Homo sapiens: one gene and its partner. The protein of the gene in region 1 interacts with the protein of each later gene in a pairwise test. Each region holds a gene or a part of one and is shown in the gene's direction. Other genes may lie near its edges.

Region 1 (3,737 bases):
AGCATAGCTCACTGCAGCCTCAAACTCCTGAGCTCAAGCCATCCTCCTGCCTCAGCCTCCCGAGTAGCTGGGACTACAGGTGTGTACCACCACATTCAGCTAATTTTTGTACTTTTTTTTTTTTTTTTTTTGTAGAGACCAGGGTCTCTCTATGTTGCTCAGGCTGTTGTTAAACTCCTGGTCTTAAGCAATCCTCCCAATTCAGCCTCCCAAATTGCTGGAATTACAGGCATGAGGCACTGCACCTGGTCTGATTCCTTTAAAAAGAAAAAATAATGAAAGAAAAAAATCCTATTGATTTAACAAACAATCATGAAATAAATGGACTGCTTAAAAGAAAAATAAAAGAGTAGAAGGATGTACACAAATACTTGCAAGTTATCTAAGTTTGGATTTCTGAAAGGAGCACCAATCAGCTAAATATTTGCTTCTTAAAATTTTACTTGCTTTTGTCTGGGAAGAGCATAATTTTTTTTTTTTTTTTTTTTTTTTGAGACACTGTCACCCAGGCTGGAGTGCAATGGCATGATCTCGGCTCACTGCAACCTCCATCTCCCAGGCTCAAGCAATTCTCCTGCCTCAGCCTCCCGAGTAGCTGGGATTACAGGCGTGTGCCACCATGCCCGGCTAATTTTTGTATTTTTTTTAGAGATGGGGTTTCACCATGTTGGCCAAGCTGGTCTCGAACTCCTGACCTCAGGTAATCTGCACGCCTTGGCCTCCCAAAGTGCTGGGATTACAGGCATGAGCCACCATGCCCTGCTGGGAGAGCATAATTTTATAGAAAGTCTCTTTTTCTGGATTGCTATGGGGCTGTTTACCATTTGAACTAAGTATAAAGGGGTCATTTCAGTAAGATTTTTACCAATGTTCACCTGGAGATACGTGACATATGACGGAGACAGAGAGAATATTTCCATAGCACCAGTGTGTTGACATTGGTTCATTCTTTGATTCATACATTTATTCAGTAAGTATTTAACGAGCTCTTCCAATATGCTGCAGCGTGAGACTATGCCAGGTCTCCTAGAGATGGAGAGGAAAATAGGACCTGGCTGTCATGCCACTCACTCTGGCACAGATGGACAGGTACATAAGTACTTGTGTAGGGTACAGCATGTGTATAATTCATGAGCCAATGTCAATAAAACCATGTCCAGAGGGCCATGGATTCAGAATCCTAGAAGCAGGATCGCTAATTTTCCTAGATATTGCCAGACACCCTCTGTGGTGTACCATTTTTACCAGCAATGAGTGAGAGCACAGAGGGAATCTTTTTAGTATCATTGAAGTAAAACAGATGCTGCTTTGTCAAGAGTATAAACATTCTTCTGGCAGAAAATGTTAAAGTAGTCATAGACGTATTATTTTATAGACAGGGTAATTGGATGGAAGCAATGGTGATATATATTAGGAGGAAGAGTGACAGATGACTTGTAGACCCAATAAAGTGCTGAAGGACCTTCTGTCTATGCAGAAGACCTTGACGTATGAAGGGCCTCCTCCCTCTCCTTTGTAGAGCAGGAGGGCAGTCTGCTTCTCAGTCTGTCAGTCATTTGTGCCTTGAGCACAGAATGAGCACAGTGTCTATAAACAGTTTGTACATGCTTAAACAGATTGTGTAATTTTTTCCAGCAAATTGAAAGATAAAATATTTGACTGGTCTGATGGGTATCTTCTTTCCATTTATTTTCTTTCCCCTAATTTTACTAATGCATTCTTTCACTGGTTCTATCACTCAGGTAGGTACAAAATACAGCCTTAACTTGCGATTTGGGAGTGAGACTGAGATGGAAAGAATAGATTTGGGATGGAAGGCACCAAAAAGTGGGGTAAGGTTGAATATTTCTTCAGTTCTCATCCTCCCTGATTTTTATTGGCTTTTAGCCTTCATTTGGGAGCTTTCTTTTCTTAGCTTTCATGAAATATAACCTCCCAGCTCTCCACTGACTTCTTTTTTAAATTTTATTTTTAATTGACAAGTTAAATTATGTATATTTATGGTGTACAACATGATGTTTTGCTTACTTGCTTCTCAAATCCCAGCCTGCCTGCCTGCCTTCCTTCCTTCCTTCCTTCCTTCCTTCCTTCCTTCCTTCCTTCCTTCCTTCCTTTCTTTTTCTTTCTTTCTTTCTTTCTTTCTTTCTTTCTTTCTTTCTTTCTTTCTTTCTTTCTTTCTCTCTCTCTCTCTCTCTCTCTCTCTACATGCACCATGGGCTCTTCTTCCTCTCCCTGGTTTAGAGCAAAGGAGGCTTTACAATATATAAAATATTAACTATCAGTTAATGTAACTAAGTGCTTTTCCCTAAATAAATTTAGACCAAAAATATATATGGAAAATACAAAAACACAGTATATTATGGCCGGGCGTGGTGGCTCATGCACTTTAGGAGGCCGAGGCGGGTGGATCACCTGAGGTTAGGAGTTCGAGACAGCCTGGCCAACATGGTGAAATCCCATCTCTACTAAAAATACAAAAATTACCTGGGTGTGGTGGTGGGCATCTGTAATCCCAGCTACTCAGGAGGCTGAGGCAGGAGAATCACTTGAACCCAGGAGGTGGAGGTTGCAGTGAGCCGAGATTGCGCCACTGCACTCCAGCCTGGGCGACAGAGTGGGACTCCATTTCAAAAAACAAAACAAAACAAAACCCCAAAAAATCTGCAACAAATTACAAATGTGTGAAGCAGTAACTTAGTTCATATAATGTAATAACAATATAGTAATTGTCTTAGTCCATTTTGTGCTGCTGTACAGGATACCTGAGACTGGTTAATGTATAGAGAAGAGAAATTATTCCCTTACATTCTGGAGGCTGGGAAGTCTAAGATGAAGGTGCTGGCATCTATTGTCTGGTGAGGTCCTTCTTGCTCCTCACGTGGTGGAAGAGAGAAGGGCAAAAAGGAACAAACTTCCTTGGTGGAGTCCTCTTAAAATAGCATTAATTCATTCATGAAGGTGGATTCATTGTGACCTAAACACCTCCCAGAAAGCTCCACCTCTCAATACTGTTGTCTTAGGGATTTGATTTCCAACCTATGAATTTTGGAGGACACATTCAGACCATAGCAGTAATCACGATACACAGTTTTTGAGGACTTCAAACCAAGTACTCTTCCCCCTCTGTCACAGACATTATGTACTTAAAAGTTCTTAAGAACCATTGCGCTTAAAATGTGTTAGCCTTTTGACTTAGAAACAATTAACCTCAATAATAACAGAGATAAACAAACCAGTTTTCCAGTAGAAATCATTCTGGATTTGTTGAACAAAGACCACAACTTCCTTCTGATGGTCTCAGTTGTTTTCCTGGTAAAGCTATGTAGCATGGCTGTTGGTTTTGGTTTGGTTCGTCCGGCTCACAAACCCACATTTCACTTTCCAAGGTGGCCAGAGACAACCCCAGTAATGACACAGATAAACAGACTGATTGTCTTTAGAAATCTTTCCAGGTTTGTTCACCAAAGACTGGATGTCCCACTATCACCTTACTTAACACAACCCCTCTAACTGATGCTAAGTGACTCAGCTTTTTTGTATATCACACCATCATTTTGAAGCCTAGAAATCTTACTTTGTACTCTAACTCATCACTCTACTTCAATCTCAAATCTCAGTCCCTTCCTTTTCTTTTCTTTTCTTTCTCTCTCTCTCTCTCTTTCTTTCTTTCTTTCTTCTCCTTTTCTTTCTTTTCTTCTTTTCTTGTGTCTTTTCGTCTTTCTGTCTTTCTTTTTTTT
Region 2 (3,704 bases), on another chromosome or scaffold:
GAACCAAAATCTAGGTCTGACTCCAAATTCTGTTGTCTTCATAGTCATTTTTCTATATCAGATTGATCTCCTGATGAGATTTTTTGTTTTTCAAAGCTTTTGCCCTTTGTATCAGGTAGGGTCTATAGCAAAGCTGAGGTTGTGACAGCTTGTCTTTAAATTCAAAGTATAGCATTTCTAGTGTGGGTAAGGTTTCTGAGGCCCGTGTGCTCTAATTGATTTCAGAATTTGGCAATGCAGCCACTTCTCTGACAGCAAACCCAGATGCCACCACAGTAAACATTGAGGATCCTGGTGAAACCCCAAAACATCAGCCAGGATCCCCAAGAGGCTCAGGAAGAGAAGAAGATGATGAGTTACTGGGAAATGATGACTCTGACAAAACTGAGGTTTGAACTTGTCTTTGAGATATTTTTTAAACAATTTTTAAAGCTTGTTTATGTGCTTATTCACTGTCTACTGTGTGCCAGGTACAGTGTCAGGCAATGACAGCTCAGAGGTAAATGACACATGGCCTCTTCCTTGGTGGGGGAAACAGGCAAACAGACCATTACTTTCCGTAAGTACACTTGTGGAGGGGAACACTGGGGTAGTGAGCAGAGATCCTAGCTTATGGAATGTGGGACTCCCATGCTCAATATTTTCTAATATTAGAGTAGGAAAGAACCTTCATGGCCCTCTGTTTTAGCCTCTCTCCTGAGATATTGATGCTGTCCTTGCTATGTAGGAAAGATAACACTTGGAGCCAGGCGTGGTGGCTCACGCATATAATCCCAGCATTTTGGGAGGCTGAGGCGGGCAGATCACTTGAGCCCAGGAGTTCGAGACCAGCCTGGGCAACATGGTGAAACTCCACCTCTACAAAAAGTACAAAATATTAGCCGAGTATGGTGGTGGACACCTGTAGCCCCAGCTACTCGGGAAACTAAGGTGGGAGGATTGCTTGAGCTTGGGGAGTAGAGGTTGCAGTGAGCTGAGATTGCACCACTACACTCCAGCCTCGGCAACAGAGTGAGACCCTGTCTCCAGAAGAAAGAAAAAAAAAAAAAGGAAAGATTGAAAACACTTGCTTGAGTACCTCCAGGAATGGGCTGTTTACCACCATGTAAGGCAGTTGCTGCCACTGTCGACTTTAATTGTGAAAATGTTTTTCTTTAATGTTTTTTCTTCGACTTTTATTTTAACTTCAGGGGTCATGTGCAGGAGGTACAGGTTTGTTACATAGGTAAACATGTGCCACAGTGGTTTGCTGCACAGATCACCCCATCACCTAGGTATTAAGCCCAGCATCCATTAGCTCTTCTTCCTGATGCTCCCCCTCCCATGTGTCCATGTGTTCTCACCATTCAGCTCCCACTTATAAGTGAGAAGATGTGGTGTTTGGTTTTCTGTTCCTGTGTTAGTTTGCTAAGGATAATGGCTTCCAACTCCATCCATGTCCCTGCAAAGGACATGATCTCATTCCTTTTTCTGGCTGCGTAGTATTCCATGGTTGTATATATACCATATTTTCTTTATCCAGTCTATCATTGATGGGCATTTAGGTTGATTCCGTATCTTTGCTATTGTGAATAGTGCTGCAGTGAACATAAATGTGCATGTATCTTTATAATAGAATGATTTATATTTCTCTGGGTATATACCCAGTAATGGGATTGCTGGGTCAAATAGTATTTCTGCCTCTAGGTCTTTGAGGAATCGCCACACTGTCTTCCACAATGGTTGAACTAATTTACACTCCCACCAACAGTGTAAAAGCATTCCTTTTTCTCCGCAACTTCACTAGCATCTGTTGTTTCTTGACTTTTTAATAATCACCATTCTGACTGGCATGATATGGTGTCTCATTGTGGTTTTGATTTGCATTTCTCAAATCAAGATATTGAGCTTTCTTTCATATGTTTTTTGGCCACATGTATGTCTTTTGAGAAGTGTCTGTTCATGTCCCTTGCCCACTTTTTAATGGAGTTGTTTTTTCCTTGTAAATTTGCTTAAGTACTTTGTAGACTCTGGATATTAGACCTTTGTTAGATGGATAGATTGCAAAAATTTTCTCTCATTCTGTAGGTTGTCTGTTCACTCTGAAGATAGTTTCTTTTGCTGTGCAGAAGCTCTTTAGTTTAATTAGATCCCATTTGTCAATTTTTGCTTTTGTTGCAATTGCTTTTGGTGTTTTCATCATGAAATCTTTGCCCATGCCTATGTCCTGATTGGTATTCCCTAGATTTTCTTTCTTTTTCTTTTTTTTTTTTTTTTTGAGATGGAGTCTTGCTTTGTCGCCTAGGCTGGAGGCTCATTGCAACCTCCGCCTCCTGGGTTCAAGCGATTCTCCTGCCTCAGCCTCCCAAGCAGCTGGGACTACAGGCACGTGCCACCATGCCCAACTAATTTTTGTATTTTTAGTAGAGACGGGGTTTCACCATATTGGCCAGGCTGGTCTCGAACTCCTTACCTCATGATCCACCCATCTTGGCCTCCCAAAGTGCTGGGATTACAGGCATGAGCCACCGCGCCCAGCTGGTATTCCCTAGATTCTCTTCTAGGGTTTTTTTAGTTTTGTGTTTTACATTTAAGTCTTTAATCCACCTTGAGTTAATTTTTGCTTATGGTATAAGGAAGGGGTCCAGTTTCAGTTTTCTGCATATGGCTAGCCAGTTCTCCCAGCACTATTTATTGAATAGGGAATCCTTTCCCCATTGCTTGTTTTTGTCAGGTTTTTCGAAGATCAGATGGTTGTAGACGTGCATTCTTATTTCTGAGTTCTCTGTTCTGTTTCATTGGTCTATGTGTCTGTTCTTGTACCAGTACCATGCTGTTTTGGTTACTGTAGACTTGTAGTTTAGTTTGAAGTCAGGTAGCATGATGCCTCCAGCTTTGTTCTTTTTGCTTAGGATTGTCTTGACTATTTGGGCTCTCTTTTGATTCCATATGAATTTTAAAATAGTTTTTTTCTAATTCCGTGAAGAATGTCAATGGTAGTTTACTGGGAGTGGCATTGAATCTATAAATTACTTTGGGCAGTATGCCATTTGCACAATACTGATTCTTCCTAACTATGAGCATGGAATGTTTTTCCATTTGTTTGTGTCCTCTCTTATTTCTTTGAGCAGTAGTTTATAGTTTTCTTTGAAGAGGTCCTTTACTTCCCTTGTTCCTAGGTATTTTATTCTTTTTGTAGCAGTTCATTCATACAAAAGAACGAGAGTTCATTCATAATTTGGCCCTCTGCTTGCCTGTTGTCGGTGTATAGGAATACTAACAATTTTTGCACATTGATTTTGTATCCTGAGACTTTGCTGAAGTTGCTTACCAGCTTAAGAAGCTTTTGGGCTGAGATGATGGGGTTTTTTAGATATAGAAACATGTCATCTTGCAAACAAAGGTGATTTGACTTACTCTCTTCCTATTTGAATACCCTCTTCCTATTTGAATACCCTTTATTTGTTTCTCTTCCCTGATTGCCCTGGCCAGAACTTCTAATACTATTGAATAGGAGTGATAAGAGAGGGCATCCATGTCTTGTGCTGGTTTTCAAGGGGAATGCTTTCCTTGGTTGGGGATGGGTGTTCCTTTGTCTCCGTGCTGCTCCTGGGTGAGCCATCGCCCCACCCTGCTTTTCTTCATTCTCCGTGGGTCGAGCTACTTGCCTAGTCAGTCCCAATGCAAGAACCTGGGTATTTCAGTTGAAGGTGCTGAATTCATTC

The links. Proteins that work in one complex are often made in the same cells at the same time.
Region 2: the proteins of SLC10A6 (region 1) and YIPF1 interact in binary tests that used the Homo sapiens proteins (3 or more experiments, as listed by UniProt).

Annotation. Positions count from the first base shown.
Region 1 is NC_000004.12:86,835,668-86,839,404, reverse strand, and holds part of SLC10A6 (sodium-dependent organic anion transporter), read left to right. Parts: intron 1-3,737. UniProt on the Homo sapiens protein: Transports sulfoconjugated steroid hormones from the extracellular compartment into the cytosol in a sodium-dependent manner without hydrolysis.
Region 2 is NC_000001.11:53,879,798-53,883,501, reverse strand, and holds part of YIPF1 (protein YIPF1), read left to right. Parts: intron 1-225; coding exon 226-389; intron 390-3,704.